Linked DNA regions of Homo sapiens: region 1 is linked to region 2. Evidence: fine-mapped QTL for protein levels in blood plasma. A gene starts in region 2. The other region holds a variant in brackets. All regions are shown on one strand. Distances are from middle to middle. Region 1 holds the start of LOC105378899 (a long non-coding RNA gene). Region 2 holds the start of PROK1 (prokineticin 1).

Evidence for each region. PIP is the chance, under the fine-mapping model, that this variant and not a neighbour inherited with it causes the effect. The UK Biobank Pharma Proteomics Project read protein levels with antibody pairs (Olink). The fine-mapping took linkage between variants from a reference panel, not from the people measured, so its PIPs are less certain.
Region 1: its variant is fine-mapped to the plasma level of the PROK1 protein (UK Biobank, PIP above 0.99).

Annotation. Positions count from the first base shown.
Region 1 is chr1:110,461,308-110,477,919 of GRCh38, forward strand. It overlaps LOC105378899 (a long non-coding RNA gene), which reads right to left and starts at 12,339. Exons shown (of 2, transcript XR_947699.2): 1 at 12,258-12,339; 2 at 11,235-11,553. LOC105378898 (a long non-coding RNA gene) reads left to right here and starts at 12,450. Exons shown (of 2, transcript XR_001738181.1): 1 at 12,450-12,487; 2 at 12,637-12,775. RefSeq lists enhancers at 15,981-16,481, 16,482-16,612 and a silencer at 16,440-16,612. The variant G/A (reference allele first, on the strand shown) is at 4,631.
Region 2 is chr1:110,445,788-110,454,698 of GRCh38, forward strand. It overlaps PROK1 (prokineticin 1), which reads left to right and starts at 5,362. Exons shown (of 3, transcript NM_032414.3): 1 at 5,362-5,501; 2 at 8,174-8,299. The coding sequence starts at 5,430.

The DNA of each region.
Region 1 (16,612 bases), 19 kb after region 2:
AAGGTCAGCTCAGCAGAGGCTCCGAGGTTGGGGACCTGCTTCAGAGTTGAATTTGCAGGACGAATGACAGCTGGATTTTACTTAGAGTGTGTGTTTTGTCTAGGGTGGCTGTGCTTGGGCAGGGGCTGAGGTGGGGCCAAGACCCTCGAGCTATGGAGGGCAACACTTGATGTTTGTCTTACTCCGTTTCTGCTGCTATAACAAAATACCTGTGACCGAGTAATTTATGAAGAACAGAAATGTATTTCTCATAATTCTGGAGGCTGAGAAGTCCAAGATCAAGGCACCAGCAGATTCAGTGTCTGCTCAAGGCTTTCTTTTTATCCTCATATGGCAGAAGGTAGAAGGGCAAAAGGGGCTGGCTAGTTCCCTGGAGCCCTTTTATTAGGGCACTAATCCCATTCACAAGGGCAGATCCTATTCTGACCTAATCACCCGCAAGGCTCCACCTCTTAATATTATTGCATGGGTGGTTAAATTTCAACACATAAATTCAGGGGGACATTCAGACCACAGCAGCATTCCTACTTCTTCATACCCTTGACAGTGACAATCACTGAGTTCCAGAAATTGCTACTTGAAAATGTGACCCATATACTGCCCAGGCTGGTCTCAAACTCCAGGTCTCAAGCATTCCTCCTGCCTTGGCCTCCCAAAGCACTGGGATTACAGGTGTGAGCCACTGCGCCTGGCCCAGTAGTCGGCCTTGACCTGTGAGTCTAGCCCAAGAGTCAACCTTGAGGATTCGCCTGGGTTGTCAAAAAATCAGATTCTACCAGTGGGGGAAGGAAGCACAAGGTGGCCTGGGGGCACATTCTCTGTCTGGGTATCTTTGGGGACACCTGTTCTGATTGGGAGCTGGAAAGGAAAACAATAAGAGCCATTGTTAAACAAACAGGTTTTCTCCATCGAATGACAAGTGAATGAATAAAACACACTATATCCACACAATGGAGTATTATGCAGCCATGAAAAAGAATGAAGTATTGATATACACCATAACATGGAGGAACCTTGAAAACATCATGCTGGGTGAAAGAGCCAGTCACAGAAGGCCACATCTTGTATAATTCTATTTATGGGAAATGTCCTGAATAGGTAACTCTGTAGAGACAGAAAGTAGATTAGCTGTTGCCCAGGGCTGGGGTGGGCTGCAGGTAGGAAAATAGGCGGTGACTGTTAATGTTCTTTTTGGAGCCATAAGAATGTTCAAAATTAGTTAGTAGGCATGGTGGCACAACTCTGTGAGTATCCTAAAAATTATTTGAAATGTATATTTTAAATGGGTGAATGGTCTGGTATGTAAATTATATCACCATAAAGCTGTTTTAAAAATACTAAAATCCAAAAAGTAAAAAAGAAAAAAAAATAGCTCTACAACTTCGGTTTGTAGAATCGAAAAGATGAGGTCAGGAAGGGGCCGGGGCTCACAGTTTCTGAGTTTTGGTGCTTCCAGGGACCCAGGAGATCCTCAAGCCCTGGGGCACATCAGGAGTGAGGAGGGTGGGTGTTCTGGGCTGGACTGTGACTTGATATTCCTTCAAATGGATATTTTAAAAAATGTTCATTTAATATTTGTTTTGTAGGCTGAAGAGAACGATTTGACATTAACCCAAACTGTGTATTTCTTTGCTAATGTACCAAATAAGGCATTTGTTATATGTGGTTTTCTACCCCAAACATCTTTTACACCAATGGCATACTAAACTGTTTTCAATTTAGATGATTAAAGAAACTGCCTATGAGCAGAACAAAAGCACTATACTGTGCACTCTGCAGTCTGGGGTTTCAGTTTCCTGGGACTGCATCTTAAGATGAGTGCAAGGAATTTTTGTTTTCCACTGGAGGGCACTGCCCACCCTGGTGGGAACAGAGAGATCCCTATGTAGTGGCTGAGTTATCTGGCACAGGCCTTAACTGGCTCTGAGTCTTCTATTGACTGCAGGGATGTTTTGTGCCCCCTTTAGAACTACACCCTGGACAGCTGACCCTGACAAGGAATAAGGTTGAAAGATGGGTTGCCACCTCTTGCTCCAACCCTGGTTGGGGCCATGGCTAGACTCAGAAGCCCAAAGCCACAGAATCACTGAGGTGAACAACTTTAGGTGAACGAAAGAGTCAGCTTCCCTGCTGAGGTTTTCCATCCCATATTTATGACAAAGGGCTCTGCTGGGGCCTGCACACAGCCATGGTCTGCAGCCACACCCTAGGTCCCTGCCACTCTGCTGTGTCCTGTCCCAGTTCTCTGCTCACCTGAGGGGCAGTGCTTGGGTCTTGGGAAGACCACTTGGTCCAGGTCACAGGAAGGATATGATTTATGGTCCTTTTGTCCAAAAGATCCTTTCCTGTCTCAGCCCCCTGCCTACTCGATAGACTCTGCTGCGCGTCAGTCACAGACATATTTGTTTCTGTGTACCTTGGGAGAAAAACACGAGTGTGGTTCTCAAAAGGATTCGGAGCTCCTGCGGGGGCTGGCCTGGTACAGGGCAGGAAAATATTCTGGGTCTAGTGAGGACAGAGGGGCCTTTATTTGGGAGCTGAAGATTAATGAGGAGGATTAACTGGATCTAAACAGAGAGAAACACTGGTGTGAGTAAGAAGACGTGGGCACATTTCTGACGGAGACGAGTCATGGAGGAGCCTGTGAAATTCTGTCTCAAAGCTAAACCCCAAAGATTAAGTAAACAAATATGTCAAATGGCAGCTTGACATGTTCTTGTTATTTTACATTTTGCTCGATTGGCATTTCTCATCAAATTAGCGGCAAAGCTCCCTTATGTTTCCTGACGGGGGGTTAGCACAGTGGTTCACTGCACAGACTGCCTGAGTTCGAACCCTAGTTTGGATGCTTACTAGAGACTTTGGACCCAAAGTTACTAAACCTCTCAGTACCTCAGTTTCCCCATCTGTACAATGGCAATAATAAAAATAGCACCTACGTGTTGTAACCAGCACACCACACTAGCATTACCTGGAGGGATCTCTTCAGTGAGGTAAACCAATAAGATGTCCAGGAAGGAACGAACAATCTTTTCTCGGATGTGCTTCAATTCCCCAGAAGCTGAACATGGTAGGAAGAAATCAGTTTGTTCAGATCATGTTCTGTTATTATCTTGAAGTTTAGAAGCACAGGTTTATGTAGGCAGAGCTCAATAACAGCTCCATTTGGGAACACAGATACACAAATCTTATCTAAGTACTTCTTAATACCTTGCTTAAACATATGAGTCACTGTTTCACAGTAAAATGGAATGTTTGCTCAATATGGGCTATGATCTTAATACTGTGCTATTCTTTTTTTTTTTTTGGTAGAAAAAGCATAAGGAGAGTGGGCTTTGAAGTCTGTCCTGGCTCCTCTCAGATTGTGTCCAAATCAAACCTCCCAAACCATGTGTGTTCCCTGAGACAGGCCTCACTGTTGCTGCGACTCCCTTCTAGAAGGAGGCAGTGCTAGGGAATGTTGCTCACCCCCTAGACCACCAGTTCCCAAGCACCAAAGGAAGACGTTACTGCCAAGCACCAAAGGAAGACTCTGCTTCTGTGGGGCCTTCAACAAGCCCCTCTACAGCTTGGACTCTGATGCAGGTGCTCCTTGTACCTCCCACTCCCAGAGAAACACTACCCTAACCCATCACCCCAACCTTTGAAGGAAATCAGTTAAACAAATAATGAAAATTCTACTTTTCTTTCCAAGTGGCAGAGAGGCTAGTTTCCATTAGGAGAAGTTCCAGCTAAGATAGAGGGTAGTCTTCATGCTAAAGCAAGGACTAGCAAGCCCGGGAGAGGGAGGAAGAAGGGTGTGTGTGCGCACCTGGGTCTGTGCCCATCCAGAATTAGGTTTCAAAGGGGGAACTATTGTGCCTGTGAAAACCTGAGTCATCAAAGTGCAAAGGGGGAAAAAGAATACAGAGAGGAGCAGTTGCGCAGGAGAGAGAGGAGGTCCCTTGAAAGGCAGTCATTTCCGTGCACTTTAAGGCAAACAGCTGGGCCCCCACCTGGACTCTGGAAAGCCTTGCAGGTGAGGAGGCTGAGCTGGCTGCTCTGAGGCCCAGACCAGGAGGCAACATGTGTTCTACATACACACTCCCTGGACCCATCTGGGGCTCAGCTGGGAAGGGATGAGACAAGGACCTGGGCTGCCAGATGCAATGCTCAGGGTCTCCAGGGGGTGTCAGAGAGTCAGGGCAACAGAAGGCGGGGCCCAGGACCCTCTCCTGGGAGCTGCCCCACTGCAGGAGCTGCTGGGGGTGGTATCTTAGTAGCAGTAGCCCCATGGGCAGAGGCAGCCTGCAGCTTACTGTCAGCGTGAGGGGAGGACAATGAGACATTTGAGAGCCTGCAGTGTCAGGCTGGCCATGCCTGGTCTCATTAGCCTTCAAGAAGGGGCCTGAGAAGAGGCTCTGGTGCAGGCCCAGGGAGGTAGGGTCAGAGGAAAGAGCCTGTGAGGGGTCTCAGGGGAGCTAAGCACCCACGGGAATTTGGCCCCAGCCAGGGAAAGATGAGAGAGAGGGTTCTTGCCTTATCTCCCTGTTGCAGTCTTAGTTGGACAAGTTGGGGCCCCAGTGTCCCCTGGAGGTGGCCTAACTGCAAAGCATGTAGGCCACAAGGGGCTTTTCTGGGTTGCCCCAGA[G/A]GTCCCCTGAGCCCTTGAGGAGCTGGATGCAATCAGAAGTGGGACCATATACTGCCCCCAACGTCTCCCACCCTATTTCTCAGACTCTGTCCCCACTATTTCCCACTCTACAAGGCGCCCTGTCTTCCTGCTCTGTCCTCTCTCTGACCTTCAGGCTGGTGGTCAGAGGTCCTCTTGGCGGTCCTGGGACCAAAAGTCTCATCTCAGCACCCTGAGGAGTCAGGGTCTGTTTCCACGTCTGGTAAACAGGAACAGTAACCCCTGGCTGCCCACAGGCTGTCACGAGGGCACCCTCGGCAGTGCTCCCCCAAACTCCCCTAGGGTTAAACTCACCTGGGGTGCTTGTGAAGTACCCAGGGTCCTGTGCCGCATCCCAGAGCCACTGGATCTGGATTTCTGGAGAGGAAGTCTGGCAAGCTAGAGTTTTAGCAGCTTGAGAAATGTTGGAAAGGAGTGAAGCAAAAAGGCCCCATTCACTCACTCTTCTTGGTTTGAATCCTGCTCCACCCGCCAACTGCCTAGCTACAGGACCTGGGGGAATTTGCTCCTCTAACTCAATTTCCTCATTGGTAAAATAGGTTCCCATTAGAGCTTATCTTGTGATGTTGTTGTGAGGACTAAATACGAGGAGCAAGCCCCAGGCTGGCACAGAGAGGAGCCACAGTAACTGTGAATATCACTACTAGATAGGCTTATGGAGTGAACGTGCTTTGTAGGCTGATAGATGAATTTTTTCTTCTCTTTATATAAAGTGGGCTCTGCCCTCTCTTCAATAAAAGACAGTGTCTGCACCAACCAATCCTCAAAACTCAAGTATAGAAACTGGATTGTGCACTTAATCAGGGTGGAATAGAACAGCCTGTGCCCACCCCCTCCGCTGATGGCTCATGAAATGGGCCAAGTGGGAGTGAGGCTGGCCTCCTGCAGCCCTGCACCTGGGCACCCTGCCCCATGAGGAGGAAGCAGGGCAGGGCCCTCTGTGCTCATACCCCTCTCCCTGACCCTTCCCTGCTTCAGGATTGCTGCCTTAAAAAAATTCTTTGACTGTTACCCCAAGTAGACCCACCCCGGATTTTACTGCATGCTGCAGCCCTCTTCATTCGTAAACCACCCCGTGGAGTCAGTCTGTTCAGTTCAAGGTGAAGATTTTAACTCAGGCTATTTATAATTCCTGCAATGGAGCGGGTGTTAGTTTCAAAGCAGTCATGCCAGATGTCAACTTAGAAGCTGAGAGGGAGACAAGCGTTATTATAAATTAATGTTGCCAGTGATTAATATTTGATATTTTTAACACACGTTCGTCTCAGAGGAAAAAAATCCTCTTTAATTAATGTGGCTAGATGTTGTGCAGTCCTTCCACTGACGTGGGATTACTGAAAATCTTTGGGTATAGCTTTGGGCAAAAATCTGACAGAAGAAAATAATTGAACCCTGAAGTCAGAGTCAGAGTTTGATGCCCCAGTGTCTGTACACCTGTCTCCTTCAGCTGGGACTGTCGGGGTTGGGCATCCGCCAGTCTCCTTCCCCCTTCCATCCTTTCCCCTCGGGACCTCCTGCTCCCATTCTGGACTGGTCCAGGCTGGAGAAGACACTGGTTGGTTCCATCACGGCCTGGGAGTCTGGAGATTTTTCTTTAGTCTGGGCTTTGCCAATATGTGAAGTGGCTCATCCTGTAGACTGTCACTGGGTGGGAGGAGAGGCTTGCCCTATAGACCTCTGCTATTTTGTCTGCACAGTGCAAAAACAAATGGTTGCTCTTATTTCAAAGCTGGTATATTTCTCCCCACATCCACATTTCCTGTATCTCTTGGAAAATGGCAAATCCTGGCATCCCTAGTGTGGGTTCCCACAGTGGCACTAACTTGTGATATTATCTTTCTTTTCAAATGTTCCTGAACCCGCCATTGATCTTGGCCTCCACTATACCTTCCTCAGGGTGGCCATCTGGTGGCTGGGGTTAGCATCTGACCTGCAGACAATTTGGTCTGCAGGTGTTGGCCTGCATTATGCTTAAAAAATAAATTGGGGCCAGGTGCGTTGGCTCGCACCTGCAATCCCAGCAGTTTGGGAGGCCGAGGCAGGCGGATCACGAGGTCAGGAGATCGAGACCATCCTGGCCAACATGGTGAAACCCCGTCTCTATTAAAAATACAAAAATTAGCCAGGCCTGATGGTGTGCGCCGTAATCCCAGCTACTCAGGAGGCTGAGGCAGGAGAATCGCTTGAACCTGGCAGGCCGAGGTTGCAGTGAGCCGAGATTGCGCCGCTGCACTCCAGCCTGGTGACAGAGTGAGACTCTGTCTCAAAAAAAAAAAAAAAAAAAAAATTGGAAGGACACTGGGCCTGGTGGCTCATGCTTGTTATCCCAGAACTTTGGGAGGCTGAGGTGGGAGGATTGCTTGAGGCCAGGAGTTCGAGACCAGCCTGGGCAACATAGTGAGACATCTGAAATGAAGCAATTTGGAAGATAATTAAATTAATTGCATTTTTTTCTTTTTTGATCTGGTTTCTCCTAAAATTATTTTTCAACATTTATTTTTAAATTTAGAATTTGAAGCACAATCTCTAGTATTTTGTAGGCCCATAAAATGTTACATGCCTACTCCTTAGTTTAGTAAAAATAGATATAATTTGGTAGAATCTCTGGTAGGCGATTTTTTTTTTTTTTTTACATCAGCTAACATATTCTTCTCCATTACCTGCCTGGCCCCTGTGGTCATCTGGGCTTTCACCCTTGCCAATGTCACTGAGCCTCATGTTTCTTATCTGTTAAATGAGGCCTGAGAGGCTGGGGTAGAAAGATCATGGATTCTGGAGTTGAACTGGTCCTGGATTGAAATCCTGGCAACACTGTCTTCTCATCTTGGAGCTGAGTAACGACTTAAGTTCTTTAAGCTTCATTTTTCTCATTTGTAAAATATAGATAATAGCAACCACCCTGCATGCTCTTGGTGATGACTAGATGAGAGGAGAATAATAAGAGCTTGCATTCATCGAGTGCCTGCTGTTGCCAGGCACCTTGCATGGCCTCACTGATCATCACAAAAAACCTACAAGGTAGAAGATGTTTCCAGATGAGGACGCCGAGGCTGGGAGGGATGACTGTCACAAGGGCAGAGCAGGGGCGCTGAGCACACAGTGGGCACTCAGGGACCCAGGGCTGTGTAAGAGACATTGCCAAGGTCGCCTCTACTCCTGAAAACCCCATGATTGAGACCCTGTCCCTCTACTTTTCACAGTGACCAGGCCAGGGAGGAGTGAGTTTTGCAGATGTTCAAAGACAGAACATAAAACCTGAAGGTGTCCCTCTTTATATTCTGAGTTTTCAAAAGGTGCATATTCCATTCATTAGATTATAGTTTATGATATTTGGTTCATAAGAGTATACTGATTTTTATTTACAAGTAAACCTATTTTTTTACTGTGTTGTATATGTGACATAGAAGTTACCATTTTAATCATTTTTAAGGGTATGGTTCAGCAGCATTGAGTAAATTCATGTTCTTGGGCAAACATCACCACCATCCATTTCCAGAAATTTTTCATCTTCCCAAACTGAAACTCTGTACCCATTAAACAATAAATCCCCATTCTCTCCCTGGTCCCAGCTCCTGGAAACCACCATTCTACTTTCTGTCTCTGAATTTGACTCCTCTGTGTGCTTCACATAAGCGGAATCATACAGTATTTGTCTTTTTGTGACTGGCTTATCTCACTTAACATAGCATCTTCAAGATTCATCAATTTTGTAGCACGTGTTAGAATGTCCTTTCTTTTTAAGACTGAATAATATTCATATATATATATACACACACACACACACACACACACACAGACATACACACATATGCCACATTTTGTTTATCCATTCCTCTGTGGATGGACACTTGATCCTACCTTTTGGCTATTGTGCATAATGCTGCTACAAACATGGGTATACAAATATCTTTTTGGAACCCAGCTTTCAATTCATCTGAGTGAACTGAAGAATCCCACAAGTGGAATTATTGAATCATACAGTGTTCTACTTTTAATTTTTTGAGGAATTGCCATACTGTTTTCCATAGTGGCTGCACGATTTCACATGCATACCAGCAATATACAAGGTTTCCAGCTTCTCTAAGTATTTGCTAACACTCGTTTTCTCTCCCTTCCTTCCTTCCCTTCTTCCTTCCCTCCCTCCTTTTCCTTCCTTCCCTCCTCCCTTCCCTTCCTTCTTCCCCTATTCCCTTCTTTTGATAGCAGCCATCCTAATGTGTGTGATGTGATATCTCATTGTAGTCTTGATTTGTATTTCCCTAATAATTAGTGATGTTGAGCATATTTTAATACGTTTCTTGGCCATTTGTATCTCTTCTTTGAAGAAATCACTTCTATTCAAGTCATTGGCCCATTTAAAAATCAAGTTATGGCTGGGCGTGGTGGCTCATGCCTGTAATCCCAGCACTTTGGGAGGCCGAGGTGGGTGGATCATGAGGTCATGAGTTCAAGACCAGCCTGGCCAAGATGGTGAAACCCCGTCTACTAAAAATACAAAAATGAGCCGAGTGTGGTGGCGGGTGCCTGTAATCCCAGCTACTCGGGAAGCTGAGGCAGGAGAATCACTTGAACCTGGGAGGTGGAGGTTGCAGTGAGTTGAGATCACGTCATTGCACTCCAGCCTGGGCGATAGAGCAAGACTCTGTCTCAAAAAAAAAAAAAAAAAAAGGGAAAAAGAATAAATCAAGTTATTTGTTTTTTGTAGAAGTTCTTTACATATTCTGGATATTAGCCCCTATCAGATATATGATTTGCAAACATTTTCCCCCATTCCATGGGTTGCCTTTTCACTTCGTTGATGTGTGTCATTTCATGCACAAAGGTTTTAAGTTTTGATGTAGTCCCATTTATCTATTTTTCCCTTTGTTTCTTGTGCTTTTGGTGTCATATCAAGGAGACCTCACCAAATCTAATATTATGAAGATCTTAAACATTAAATTTTGAACCAGTTTTCCTTCCCAACTACTAAGCGATTCCTTACAACTTTCTTTCTTTCTTTCGAGACAGGGTCTTGCTCTGTTGCCCAGGCTGGAGCGCAGTGGTGCTATCTTGGCTCACTGCAGCCTCTACTTCCCTGGCTCAAGCAATCCTCCCTCAGCCTCAGCCTCCTGAGTAGCTGGGATTACAGGCATGCACCACCACCCCTGGCTAATTTTTGTATTTTTTTCTGGAGACAGGGTCTCACCATGTTGCCCAGGCTGGTCTTGAACTCCTGGGCTCAAGTGATCCACCTGCCTCTGCCTCTGGAAGTGGTAGGATTACAGGTATGAGCCACAGTGCCCAGCACAAACTGTATTTACAAAGCAAATCAATCACGATCTCAAGATGTGTGACCTGGTGCTAATGCCTCATTGTCCTGCAGAGGGCTCGTGTTCTGTATGTCCATCTTCGTCATCCCATTTTAGGACTGCCCTGTCCAGTCTTGGTGCCTAGGTATTGTGTGGTGGTGGGGACAGAGCTGGAAGGGACCTGTTTCCTACCAGAGAAACTTCTCACCCCATCCTCCTCTCTCCCACTCTGCTTTCCTCTTCTTTTTACCTCCCTACCTGAAAAATACTCTGAAATGGGATTTAGGACCTGTCTGCTAACCCCACTTCCCTGCAGCCCCCAGTGAATTTGGATCCATTTGCCTGTTTCCCGGGGCAGGGCCCTAGGCTGTGAGTAACCGGCTCTCTCCCTGTCTAGTTTCCACCTTCTTCCTCTGGACATGCGGGGTGGCATGTGTCAAATTTATAAATATGGTTTTGGAGAGGCCTTTGGATTATCTCAATCTTTAAAATCTTTTTATTTAGACATAATTTCAAACTTGCAGAAAGAGTTCTTACATACCTTAACCCAAATATCAGAAATGTTGACACCTCACCACATTTGCATTATTTTTCTGTCCGCTATTCCTCCCTCTCCCCTTCCCCTCTGCTTTTCTCTCTCTCACTCTCTCTAGGTATTAAAATATATATTATATTATATAATATGTAATATATTTATATATTTTATGTATAAAAATAAAACTTAAATATATATAAAATATATAATTATTGATATTTAATACATAAGTATAAAGAAAACACATAGCTATATAAATTATATAGAACATATATGTATGTTTTTCTTCCCCTGGATCTTTTAGGAAGCAAGTTGCAGACATAATACTCTTTTTTTTTTTGAGACGAAGTTTTGCTCTTGTTGTCCAGGCTGGAGTGCAATGGCGCGATCTCGGCTCACTGCAACCTCCACCTCCTGGGTTCAATCAATTCTCCTGCCTCAGCCTTCCAAGTAGCTGGGATTACAGGCACCCACCACCACGCCTGGCTAATTTTGTATTTTTAGTAGAGACCGGGTTTCACCATGTTGGCCAGGCTGGCCTTGAACTCCTGACCTCAAGTGATCCACCTGCCTCAGCCTCCTAAAGTGCTGGGATTACAGGCGTGAGCCACTGTGCCCGGCCTGACATAATACTCTTTACTTCAGTATTCCCCCCAAATCAAGGACATTTTCTTGTAAATATTAACATGAAAATTGGTACAAATATCGAAGTCAGGAAATTAATATCAGAACAATACTATCATCTGATGTAGACTATTTTGCCAATTGTCCTAATCATGCCCTTTACAGCAAAAGGAACATTGTTTTGGATTCTCTCTTGACACACAGGCAAGGGTGGGCTAGAGCCATGGCCAGCAGCCAGGAGGCTGGGTAGCCTCGGTCTTCCTCCCCGTGGTGGAGTCCAGTGGAGGCTCTACACCGCACCCTGGGCGAGAGAGAAAAGCCTGCCTGGTCCCGCCGGCGGCTGCCCAGGAGGAAAGTAGCCTTCATCCCCTGCTTTCCACTCGGCACCTTCTCTGCTTCCAGACATCTGCCCCCATCTCCACGGTGCCTGCTGGGCACTGTAGCAACAAAAATGCAAGTGTCAGCTCCGGCTTTGTGTTGTCACCATCCAGGGCCCTCATTCTAGAGTCATGCTACCTGAGTCTGAATCCTGGGCCTGCCCCTTACTGACTGTGTGATCTTGGGCAGGTTATTGAACTGATCTGTGCTTCGGTTCCCTTAAAATGAGACAGATAGTACCTCATTTACAGGATTGTGGTGGTGTGTGGCTGGGAAGAAGTGATTTTATACATGTAAAGGGCTTAGGATGCTGCCTGGTCAGTGGCCATGCTTGCCAACATTCATTGTTATGTGATCAAGCTTGATGCTTTGCTGAGGGGGCAGCTGGATCTCTCCTCACCACTTCCCAAATTAGCTTGAAATGTTAGTGGCAGGAGCATCATGAAACTGATGTCTAGTCCTCTAGTTGGGAGCATCAAAGAGGGTCCAGACTAGGGGGAGGAGGATCTCCCAGGGGTCATCTCATCTCTCACTCTGTATCTAAGTCAGCATCTCAGTGTTACCTTGATCAGTGCAGCACCTGTCAGCTGAGTTTCCCGGCTAGATCTGCCTAGGGATGTGCTAGATGCTCCCCAGGACTAGCCCCATTATATCCCTTCTAGCCAGCTGTTCTGAAATTTATACCTGGGGTTTGTTTTAATTAGGTATGGTAGGACATGCAGACATGGACATGATTGTCATGAAGGAAGAAGTTTATACTTACAGACCCCTAGACATAGGAGGCATGTAGGGCCACATTGGGAAGCACTGGGGTCAGTCAGGAGGTGGAGGTTGGGGGGGAGTTGTCTGGGGTGGTCAAGGGAAAGGAAATTGTGACATAGAGCCTTTATTGCATTATTACATGAAGGAATGGGTGACACAGGGTAGGTATTCTGAGTAAGCTTAGAATTGTATAGTTTGAGTAATTTCAGCGGACTCTGGGCTGGAGGAGTGGTATTTGACCCTGGGGTGGTTTAGGGCAGGGAGAAAATTGGCTTGCTTTTTGAGAGTTTGATAAAGGAGAGGGTTGGGGGTGTGGGCTGTGGGTGGGTTGGTTCGTATATCAAAGACAGGCTCACAGGGGAGTCTTTCGCCATGCCTAGGAATTAGCTAGTCCTGTGAGGGCAGTCTCTCAAGGATCAAGGCCCCAGATGCCAGAGCATCAAGAATATGGAAAATCAGAGAACATGATCAATATACCAGCTCATCCCTGGATGAAGCTCCCTGCCTTTCCTCATACAGGCGAGTGCTCTACTCTCCCTTCCCCAGTAGCACTGGTCCGTAAGCCAAGGAAAGGACTCATGCATTGAATTATACTTAGTTGCCTACACGTCTGTGTGTTCCACTGGACTACAAGCTCCCTGAGGGCAGGGAGAGGAGCTTACTCACCTCTACATGCTCAGTGCTTGGCACAAGGGCCAGGTGACCTCATTGGCAGAGGAGGAGGTGTTGCTGTGGTGGGCCACAGGCCACTGACTGTCCATATGTGGGTCACGTGGGCACTTACTCCCTGATTTCAGCCACTGGAGACCTCTTTTGGGAAGGAAGTCCCATGGCCTCATTTGCTTACTTCTGTATATAGCTGTTGAGTGAATGGGAGGATGAATTTAACATTTACTGAGTGCTTATTTTAGGTCAGGCATTGTTCTAGGTGTTTAGAGTTACAGAGAAAATTCAGACAAAATTCCTGCCCTAGAGTTCTTAGTCCAGAGGGAGGCTGATGTGTAAGCCATCACTGAGCAGTGAGATAAGCACTCTGAGAACATCCCAGACCGAGGAGCAAACTGCGCTGGTGGTGGAGTGGGTGGTTACTGCAGACAATGTGGGTGGGCTCAACAGAACCTGATTGTCTGCTTCCACTATACAGACAAAAAAGTGCAATCCTCAATTTTCCGGCCTACCTTGTAGCTGGGAGCTATAAAATGAAGTTCATCAGGCATGAGCGGTCTGCTGGTACTGCTTCTTCCCGCTTCCCCTTCTTCTTGCTTTGGGATGGGATGCGATGTTTGCTGCTGTAACAGCCATTTGCAGCCATAAGGAAAAGGCCAAATGAATTGCAGTGGTGTCCATTGAACCAATTCTGTATTTTTCTGGACTTCTTGTTTTGTGAGAAAAATAAACTGCTATTTAAACCACTGTAGTCAGATTTTCAATTACTTGCAGCCAAACCCATTCCTAATTGATCTCATAGGAGATATAAGAAAAGGCTTCACACAGGACATATCATTTTCTAAAATTATTTCTTTATTTATTTACAACAGAGATGGGGTCTCATTATATTTCTCAGGCTGGTCTTGAACTCCTGGGCTCAAGTGATCCTCCTGCCTCAGTCTCTCAAATTGTTGGGATTACAGATGTGAGCCACTGAGCCCATGCCCAGCCCATAGGACATATCTTTTGAGCAGAATCTTGAAGAAGATGGGTAGGCAGAAAATAGAGAGAAGGGCATTTGGGCAGAGGTATAGCATAGGTAAAAGCACAGTGAGGGGAGAAGTTGCATGTCACGTTGAAACACATCAAAAAGTATTAGGTAAGTTTCTCCAAGATGGAGAGAGGTGGGGAGGGTGTTCCAATCTCAATGAAGCACTGAGCAGAGTGTGGAGACAGGATCATGCATGTCATGATTGAGGCATGGTGAGTGTTTGTGCCTGGTTCCTGTTTGGGAAGCTGCAGAGATGAGGCTGGGAAAGTGGATGGGGCCAGACTCCTGGTGGTCAGGAGCTTGGTCTGCAGGTCTCTGCTGGTAAAGGCTCCTGAACTGGGAGTGGCCTGATGAGGTCCTGGTTGACCAGCCTATGGGCTTCTGTCTGCTGGGTGCCGCCCTCCCTGCCCAGAGGCCTGCATGGTAGTTGTGGTAATTGCCTCTTCTCCTTCCTTCTATCCCCCTCTCCCTTCCCATTCAGGAACCAGGAATAGGTTTCACTATTGCTGTTTCTCAGAACTAATAATATGCTCTTCCATGAGCAGGGTGGGGCCCACGCCCCATTCTTTCTCCCAAGAGGACCTGGCAATTCCATCATGCATTGGGCAGAGGTTTCCAGGACTCAGGCCACTTAATGCAGAACAAATAACTGTGCAGGTATGGAGGCTGGGAGTTATTCTCACCTAAATGTTCTGCTGACCTCAGCACGTGGACGGGCCATTACACCACGCACAGTGGCCATTTTGTGGGGAGGAAGAAGAAGGGTGGGGATTTCTACAAATGTGCGGGGCGACGTTTGTTAGGTCTCCACCTCCTGGGGTCTCTTCCACTTGAGCAATTGCTCTCTATTTGTCCTACAGCAAATGCCCCAGGGCCCCTTAGTCTTCTTCAGGCTCTGGGGCTTTTCAAGTGTGGACATGATTCAGTCATCTTTTGCTGAATTGCAGAATTCTAAAAATTCTAAAAAGTGTTTAGAAAAGCCACGATAAGATTTCATCACTGGTTACCTGGTGCTGGAGGGGGATGACTCCCCTTGGTCTAGATTCCTTGAGCCTGGGGACTGACCCACAAAGTGGCTATAACAAATCAGTGCCCAGGGACACCCTGTTTTGTTAGCAGTGGTAGTTATCTGTACAGGTCTGCAGCAACCTCAATTCTTGTCTACCCAGAAAAAAGAATTCAAGTGAGGGGCAAAAGAGCAGAAGGAGAGACCAAGGCAGTTTTAGAGTAGGAGTGAAAGTTTATTAAAAAGCTTTAGTGCCGTAAGGAAAGGAAGGAAAGTACTCTTGGAAGAGGGCCAAACAGGCGACTTGAGACCAAGTGCGTGGCTTGACCTCGTGACTCGGGGTTTTATACATTGGCATACTTCTGGGATCTTGCATTATTTCTCCCGACTCCTGAGATCTTATTGGGAAGCTGCTGATCACCAGTTCCAGGTGTTTTCTATCTACTAGGAGACTGCCTTTTGCTGGTGCTGGCTGTGACCAATTATTACTTTAGAGAGACAGTTAACAACCGCCTGACCATCACCTGATGGTCACCAAACACTCCTGACGTGTGTGTGGAGAGTCTTCTGCTGTACTCATACATGGCTAGCTACCTACTGTAACACCTTGACATAAGCGTCTGATCTCCACTCAGATATGAGCATCAATAAAGATAATTCAAGTCAATTTATTGAGCATCTTCTATGCATTTGCTATGGACACAGAGACTAGGGAGCCCACCATCGGATGGGAGATGGAAGGATCTAATGTGTGACCCCACTGTGAAAAGTACTTCAGGAGGAAGTCCAAAGGGATGATGCCGCATGCTGGAGGGGGCCAGGTGGCAGGGGAGTATAGCCCCTGGGAGTGCATGTGTGACCATCCTGGGCTCAAGTCCTGGGTTGACTGCAAAGCGGTGTGACCTTGAGCAAGTTACTTCTCCATGTCTCATTTTCCTCTTCCAAAGGCTTGAGGCAGAGATACTGAGAGGGTCATGTAAGGATCAAAGATAAGAGTATCAAGTGCTGGCATGTGTTTGGCTTTCTACAAATGTGACTCACAGATGACTACAGTTGTGTGACTCTGAATGACTCAGTTCAATCCCTGGTTCTATTTCCTTATCTGTAAAATGTGAGATTTACAAGCTCATGGTGCTAGTCCAAATCTCAGGTGTGCACAGAGCAGCAGGTCTTTTCGTTTTCTGTAAATCAGTTGAATTTCTGCAGTGTGCCCCCATCTTTCAAGAGCACAGAAAGAGGTGGCTGAGTCTGGCATCCAGGGCCATTGTCCAGGAGAGTTCGCTGCTGAGTCAGGCTGGTGGTGCATCCCTCCCTTCCTCCCCCACTGGCCCTCCTGCCTATCCCTGCCTTCCTCCCTAAGGTTGAGAGGAAAATTAATCTTGGTCATTTTTGTCAATGCCCCATTGTTGTGCTTTGATCCAGGTGACTCTCCAGCATGCCAGGTCTTTCTTGTCCCTGCCCCAGCCCCCGTTGCTTCCATGCCCTGTCTGGGCCAACCTAATCTTCTGGAAGCTGCCTTAGTCATATTCCCCCAGACAGGCCACACAGCCACCCTTCTCTGGGCTTGCCACTTCCCGGGGCTACCACCAGGGAGCAGGGCTCAAGGCCCTGCCACTTGAGGCCTGCCTGTCTCTCTTGCTTCTTCCTTCTG
Region 2 (8,911 bases):
CTCTTTCTTTCTTTTTTTTTTTGTTTGAGACGGAGTCTCACTCTGTCGCCCAGGCTGGAGTGCAGTGGCACGATCTCAGCTCACCGCAAGCTCCACCTCCCGGATTCACACCATTCTCCTGCCTCAGCCTCCCGAGTAGCTGGAACTACAGGTGCCCGCCACCACGCCCGGCTAATTTTTTTGTATTTTTAGTAGAGACGGGGTTTCACCATGTTAGCCAGGATGGTACTCTTCTCTTTCTATTTTGTTTTCTTCTTCTTTTTTCTCCTTGTTCTTCTCTTCCTCCTCCTCTTCCAATTCTTCTTAGATTTGTCCAGTTTAAATTCAGGCTTTCAGCTGGCCTGAATTTATGACCCTGCACTGTACTAAGCTGCATCTTTCCTTTGCTCCGAGTCTCCAGAGTTTACCCCCGGAGTTCTTGGCTATTGTGCTGTAGGCCCCTTTGAAGCCTATGGCTCAGAATAATGACTTCAAATGTATAAAATACAATATGTAAGATTATAAAAAATATCAAGTTTATTAAAATAAAGTTATCAAGATATTTATTAAAAACAAATTTGTGACATGGTAATACATGCACTTCTTTATTAATGGATCAAGTAACAATCTAGCAAGGAGCCTAGTAACTACAGTGATTTCAAGGTAGTGATGAGCAGGAATGATATTTGGAGCTATTTGAAGCAATAGTAATATGACATAAAAACATCTGTAATTTCTCCTGGCAACAAAATCACGGTACTGTTAAAACTTTTGTAGTTTGTGGCCTATGGTTCAAAGAAAATGTTAAAAATTCAGTTAGAAGTTAGTGAACATTAAGATGCAATTTTTCTCTCTACCAAGTTTATGGATTCTCTGAATTCTGCTCATGAGCTCCTCAGGGCTGTGACTCCAAGTTAACAACCCCCAGCCTGGATGCTTGGGTTTCCTTTATTCTATTATTCCTTTCTTCATCTCTTTTTGAAACGGATCAGAGTTAATTCTTGTTTAATCATTAGCAACAAACCAGTAATAAAGGGAGCATTTTTTTTTTCTTTGAGACAGAGTCTCACTCTGTCACCCAGGTAGAGATGTGATCTGGGCTCACTGCAACCTCCGCCTTCCAGGTTCAAGTGATTCTCCTGCCTCAGCCTCCCGAGTAGCTGGGATTACAGGCACATGCTATCAGGCCTGGCTAATTTTTGTATTCTTAGTACAGATAGGGTTTCACCATGTTGGCCAGGCTGGTCTCGAACTCCTGACCTCAGGTGATCCACTTGCCTCTGCCTCCCAAAGTGCTGAGATTACAGGCGTGAGCCACTGCACCCAGCCAAAGGGAGCATATTTGAACACATGTGCTCAAACATTAACACAAGATCCGCCCACTCAGGCAGGAGCAAGGAGACCCCTGGACATGGGCTCCCTTTCTAGCTTGCAGAACAATAACCATGATCTTAAGGTAGAGTGGAAAGGGGCTTCTCAACCTCTCCCCCATGCTTAGGTGAGACTTACTCCATGCCTGAAGGTAAACAGTCTCAGAGGACTATGCCAGGTCAGGGAATATTCCACTCCATAGTCTCACTCCATGAGAAGGTCGCCCTACATCTTGAGGGGCCCCTCAAGGTAGGCCTTGAGATTGGCTGTTGCTACACGCGCACACACACACATCTGTATAAATGGTCCATGGTGACACTGACATCAGCTAAAGCAGAGAAATAAGGGCCAGGCTGACGTTATGAGATGTGAACTGCACGTAGCCCTTCTACACAGACACTCAATGGCATGCTGCCCACCTGCCCTCATTCTCTCCGCAGGTGTGTAGGATTCTGGGAAAGGCTTGCCCGGCACATCTTCTCCACTAGCTCTCTCCTCCCTCAGCGGAACCAAGTCCACTTTTAGCACTTTCACCGTTTCCCCTCCATTTTTTACCACTTGCTTCTTGTCTCACCTCCCCTCCGGCTTCCCTCCTTTGTCTCCTCCAGTTCATGCTTGCTTAGTTCAGGGTTTTCCTCTCCTTTCCACTGTCCTTTTCCACACTGCACCTGGCAGCCAAAAAGTAACCCTAACCATGGCAAAAAAGAATCAAGTACTGTTGAAATCCACCTAGACAAGGGAACAGGAGAGCTCTAAGGTCTAGAGGGAAATTAGACCCTAGAAGTGCGAGTTCCTGGTCCTGACACATGGAAGGAACTGAATGAATGTGTAATTGAGTTATTGAATAAAGAATCAGTACTGCTTATCCCCGGAGCTCCTCAGAGTCTCTTCTGGGATTTCCACCAAGTTGCCCTCTGTCCCTTGTCCTCCTCTAATTAAAATGGCTTTTCCTCAAGCACTAGCATTCAAGAGAAATAAAATGCTTTTAATCAATGCTATTGGTTTTGTTTTGCAACAGCATTTCTTGCTACCATTCTTCACTGCAATTGTGAGATGATTAGTTTTGTGTGTTTGTGGCAGTGGGGAGGGAGGGAGTGAGAATAGGGGAGCGAATGGGACGGGTGTTAGCCTGAGAATCACCTGATCTGACATTGTCTCTTGGAAGGCAAACTTGTGAGGTGGGGTAGTGTGTGCAGGGCAAGCAGAGCCCACAGGACCACTTCTGTAAGGTGTTCCAAGCCCCCAGCAAAGTGCTGCCTCCTCCCTAGGTAGCTTTTCTCCCAGAGCAGAAGGTCCTCCAAGGCTCGGATGGTCTCTTGATTCTTCTGTCACCAGCCCGGCCCAGTGTCACAGTGTACAGGTGGGCCTTACAGACTCATTATTTTGATTCTCACCTCCCAGGAGAATTTTATATTAAGGCATACAAGTTCATATGTTTATAGAAAAAACTGGCCATTGGTAGCAAATGCTGCTGTGTGCCAGGCATTGTGGTAAGCACTTCATATGCATCACCTCACTTAACTCTCCATCTGCAGTCAGAGGGATCCTTTCAAGGTGTGAATCAGGCCAGGTGCGGTGGTGTGTGTCTACAGTCCTAGCTACTCTGGAGGCTGAGGCAGGAGCATCGCTTGAGCCCAGGAGTTCCAGGCTGCAGTGAGCTATAATCACACTTCAACCTGGCTAACAGAGCAAGACCTTGTCTCTAAAAAAAATCCAAGTGTATACCAGATCCTGCCTCTCCCCTGCTCCAAACTCTCCAAGGGTTCCCATCACACTTGGAGTCAGGTTCCTGCCATGTCCCACAAGGCAGGCTGGATTTGGTCTTTGGCTCCTGCTCCAACTGCATCCCCTCCCATCCCGTCCCCTGGCTCACCTCACTCTTTGCTTCTCCTGGAACTGGCCAAAAAGCCCTGCCACAGGGTTGTTGCACTGACTTTTCATCCAGGCTCTGTCCAGCTCACTCCTTCACTTTATCAGTCATCTGCACAAGTGCCTTCTCAGACAGACCCTTACCACATCTAAAATATCACCACTTGTCAAGGTCTGTTGCTTTCCCTGCCTTTCTCCCCACCACCTTTTTTTTATTTTTTGAGATGGAGTCTCGTTTTGTTGCCCAGGCTGGAGTGCAGTGGCGCGATCTCGGCTCACTGCAACCTCTGCCTCCCAGGTTCAAGTGATTCTCTTGCCTCAGCCTCCCGAGTAGCTGGGATTACAGGCGTGAGCCACCACAGCTGGCTAATTTTTATATTTTTACTAGAGATGGGGTTTCACCATGTTGACCAGGCTGGTCTCGAACTCCTGACCTCAAGTGATCCGCCTGCCTCTACCTTCTAAGTGCTGGGATTACAAGCATGAGCCACTGCGCCTGGCCTTCCTTTTTAACAGTGCTCAACACAACTGGCCATTTTATTACAAATCTGTTTATTTGTCTATTACCCGTCTCCTTGACTATAGTCAAAATTACATGAGGACAGGGTTTTGTTTTGTTCACTGCTATATTCCCAGTGCCAAGAACAGTGTCTTCTATACAGTAGGCTCTCAATAAATATAGTCAATGAATAAATAAATAGATGAATACTCGCAAAATCGTATGATGTAAATGCTATTCTTATCCCATGTTATAGATAGGAAAACTGAGGCTTGGAGAGATTAGCAATATTTTCAAGGTCATGAAGCCATCGATCTGAATCAAAGCATCTGCCTCTGGGGGCTTAGCTCCCAGCTCCCGTGCTAGTTAACCTTCCTCTCTGCACTCATAAATGCCTATCAGCGTTTCAATGTGGAAACCCTAGACCCCTGTGACATTTGATAAGAAAGGTTTTGTGGATGAATCTGCTTGTGAAATACTACAAACTGCATTTCCCACTTGGTGTTTCAAACACTTATTAGCATATGAAAGGCCCTGAAAAGTTCTGCAAAAAACAAGCCGGTTTGTGTTTCCCAAATTTTTGACTGTAGAAGTCTTTTATTTGTTTATTTGTGTATTAACATATTGCAACACATACCTTGGGAAATGTTGGCTTTTATTACTGTGGAGAGAAGGCAGATCATCTGACAAAGCACTGGGAGCTCTCTCTGGGTCGTATGACACAGAGAGGGCTGGGGTCAGGGGCTTCCCTCACAGGCGGAGGGGCCATCCCGAAAGTCAACTTCCCACCAGACTGGCATCTGAGACCACCGTGTTTATACACTCACGGATAAGGCCACTCTCATGCTCACCCCTAAAACTGGAAGGCCAGTGGTGTGGCTCTGGTACCTTTCAGCCACAGCCCATACCAGCTCGGCTCTGCAGGGTACTGAGAGAGTGTGTGCCCTGTATGTTTGCTGGCTTTCTGCCCTTGGGTCATTGTACCAAGGGACACTTGCTGGTGTTCATCCTGAGCCCATGAGAGAGCAAATCCTTATGTGTGTGTCACTTAGGAACATCAGCCCCACAAGTCTGGTCTTTTTTTCCTCACTGTCTTATGGCTCCTCACTATAATTTTAACCTTTTAGAGAAATAAGGATACCACCTCACCCTCTTCTGTCTTCTCAGCTACCTCTGTGTTGAGCCCATGGTAAATGCCTAGATAAGTCTTGGTGTGAGTGAGAGGGAACCAATAATCTTGTATGTTGCATAGTTTGGTGCAGGGAAGCATAAATGGTGATGTTGCAAATCCCTTAATTCATTACCAGAGGCTTTCCTCTGCCCCAAGTAGGATAGAAGGATACCCAGAGGCAGAAAAGAACATTGAGTGAAATATACATAACTGTCTGAATCACTGCGTTCTTGGGAGAGTTAGAGCAACCGTCAAAGCCCCCCAAGTATCCATTTTTATTGGTTTTGATGTTGATTTGATGTTGTTAGAGATTCAGGTCTCATCTTCGCTTCTGAGATCATCTGAGTAACATCGGTGTTGGAGAAGGGAAGAGCAGAGATGAGGCATCCACAGGCAGCCCTGGATCCTGAGTGTAAACATCTGGGAGGAGGCGGGGGATGCAGGAGAGCCTGGCCTCCCCAGCTTGCCAGGCACAAGGCTGAGCGGGAGGAAGCGAGAGGCATCTAAGCAGGCAGTGTTTTGCCTTCACCCCAAGTGACCATGAGAGGTGCCACGCGAGTCTCAATCATGCTCCTCCTAGTAACTGTGTCTGACTGTGCTGTGATCACAGGGGTAAGTCGCCTAACATTCTCTGTGCCTTGGGTTTTGGGAAGATGTCAGGGTCTGCACGGGTTGTGAGCCCAGGAACCATGCAGGAGGCTCTGTTGGCTCAACACAGTGTGAACCAAAGGGAATGGGGAATTATGCATTAAAGGGATTGCATGCGATTTTCAGACTAGTTAGACCTCACTCTACTAAATGGGATCTGCTTTTGAGAAGCTGTGTATGAATCAAATCCTGTTTTCAATGTGTTAGCAGAGCATTGAACATTTTGAAGTTCAGTCCTTTGGTAAAGTGAAGATTCCTATTAAGTAATAAGGAATTCCTTTATAAAGTGGATTGGCAAACCTTAACTTATCTTTTGTGTGAATTTTAATTTTTATTTATGGTCTGATTCACATATTAATATTAATATTAATTTACATAGCATGTTGACTTAATTAAAGGCAGTAAGCTTAATTAAAGGTGGTAAGCTTATAAACTTCTATTGTATAAACTTAACCTCCGCTTAGAAAGGATATCTTTGAAACTCTTTCACTCTGTGCCTGCCTAGTTAGTTCTGAGAGGAATATGGGTGCCACTAACATTCAGCTGAGTGTACCCCAAAGCAAGCATCCAGATAACAAGTAGATATCCAGTCTCGAAGCAGAGAAGCAAAGGTTCAGCATATGGGCACTGTACAATTGGTTCAAAATATTCAGATCATGGTTTTCTCTCGGAAGTTTGCTTTTACCTCAAACCACCTTCAAATAGGGGCACATGATGTGTTATGGTAGCAGGACCATTCTTACTGAAGCAGAAAGCAATGCTGTACCTGAGAGCTTTCCATATAAAATCCACTGGAAGAAAAAGGTCGGGGAAGCAGGGAAACTAACTTTTAGTTCAGCCTCCACCAGCTTTTTACATGGATAGTGGAAATGTAGAGAAATGCCAAACAATTCCTGGAATTGGGTTAATTTTACCATTCACAGAAAGGACAAATTCTTTCTTTTCTCTTTTAAAGGAAAAACACTGAGTTCAAAAGAACAAATATTAAAGGCGAGTCAAATGCTTTTGAGATCCAAAGCAAAAATAAAAATAATTGTGAAGGCAGAATTATACCTAATGAAGTGTTTACACTGTAGGCTGCCCTTCTATGGGGTAGCTTGAAAATCTGGGAGGGCAAGAACAATGGAGAGAAGCCCCGGCTGCTGCGCGGTGAGGGCAGGAGCAGCGTGGTTGGCCTGGATGCCAGGCTTGCCTCACCACCCGTGCCAGCTCCAGCACTGGCCCAGAGTGACAGCAGGGCAGGCAGATCTGAGAGCGGCAGGCAAACATTTTCACGGTGAAAAGCACAATAGAGAGCACTTTTCCCTAGGTGAGGGAAACCCAGGAAAGACAGGTGAGTGGTGAGAACAGGGCAGTAAGGGGAAGTCAGGAACCCCCAGGCTCCCCACATCCTCCATGTCCTGCTGGTGTCCCACTTCTGATTTTCAGCAGGAGCCCAGGCTCCACCACCTCTACACTCCCCTGCTCCCTGGACTGTAACTGTCCCCACATCCAAGGCTTTATGATCCTTCTTCCAAGAGTGGGACAGTGATGCCCCACCTCTATGGGAGAAGAAGAGTCGACTGGGGTTTCCTTTACCCCAACCCCAAGCTTTTGTGGCCTGGCTGGGTGTGAGACGTGCCCTTGCTGGGCTGGAGACAGGCACAGCTGGGTGCCCACCACCCGTAACTCCTCTGCATGATCTGTGGAGCTGACATCCACTCTTTCCCTCTTGGGTCTGAGCAAGTAGGAGGCTTCCAGGTCCTGCCACGTCCCACACAGCAGCCTGAAGGTGCCCATAGGCTTTTATTGGAGAAGAGTGATCCAAAACCCAGCTTTGCATTTCAGCTCAGAAAAGCCACATAGCATCTCTGAGAATGGCAAGTGTGGATGCTTCTTCAGCAGGTCCCCACCTGAGTCTGGAGCAGTTAAGAGTTCTGTCTTCCCCGGCTCTGGCTTTTATTTAACGTGGGCTCATGTTAAATGTGAGCTTATTTAATGTGGCCTTCTTTACAAATGGTACCTTCCCCAAACCAGGCAGGGCCGCTCAGCTCCTGTTCTGCGATCCTCTCTGGGAATCATGGAAGTCAGTAGAGAAACCCTGGGAGAGGCACCTGTTCACTGGGGTGCTGGCCCCTCTGCTGAGGCTGGGCCACTTGAGGGCCAGGATGGGGGTGCCTCCATGCAGAGGGGAGGGACTGACCACAGTGCAGAGTCAGGGCTGGAGACTCCTGGTCCAAGGCAGCTCAGTACTGACCACCAAGGAATTTGGGCCATCAGGGTCCCTCCCACCTCTGAGAATTCTAATTAATTCAATTCCACCAGCATCCACTGAGCATCTACTTAGCCCTAGAAAAGCTATGCCTTCTAACCTCCAGCCTTGTCAGAAAAGGAGGACTGTCTTCCTTCTGAGTGGCCTCCAGGAGCTTGGAAGTTTCCTCAGATCCAGATCCAATGCCCCCCTGAGCCCTGAGCCTCCCCACGAGGGGAGCAAGGCAATAAAGTGTGGCCCAGGGTGTTCTGTTAGGCTAAGGCCGGGGGTGATACTCTCAGCCTCTTCTTGCTCCATCCTGATAAGGGCTTTTTGGATCTACCCTTCCCTTCTGCTTTCTCTTGGGTGCACTAATGAACTGTTCCCTTCTCTCTCCCTCCTACAGGCCTGTGAGCGGGATGTCCAGTGTGGGGCAGGCACCTGCTGTGCCATCAGCCTGTGGCTTCGAGGGCTGCGGATGTGCACCCCGCTGGGGCGGGAAGGCGAGGAGTGCCACCCCGGCAGCCACAAGGTACTCTGCAGACACTGCATAGGTGCACATATGTGGGTGGGCCATGCGGGGAGCAGAGGGTGATGTCCTGGGGCCTTGCTCTAGCTAGGAAGGCTAGAGAGGCTGGCTCCAGAGAGGCAGTCTAGGGAGGCTGTGGCTCCAGAGGACTTCACCCTCCTCTGATAGCTGATCCAGCCCTGATCCAGCCCCTGAATGTCCAAGGGGAAGCAGAAGGCTATGGGGTTGCTGTGCCCCTGCCATCAACAGGCATCCACCTTACTTAGTGCCCTGCAGATGACACATTTGTACATTTATTTGTACAGGGCCTGACATAATTCATCTACAAACTTCTAGCACAGGTTGGAGAACCACTGATCTTTATTTGATCCTCACTGCAACCCTGGGCAATGCTGAGGAAACTGACATACAGCAAAGTCATGTGACTTGCTCAAGGCACACAACCAATGAGACAGAGCTGGGACTGGAACTGCAGTTTTCCGATGCCACCTCTAGTCATACCTCACTGATGTTGGGCACTGCCTCCTTGTTTTTGGGGGGCAGCCTCAGGTGGAGGGGTGCCACTGATCTTATAGGCTGTTAAACAAGCTGGGCATTCCCAGCCCCTAATTTGCT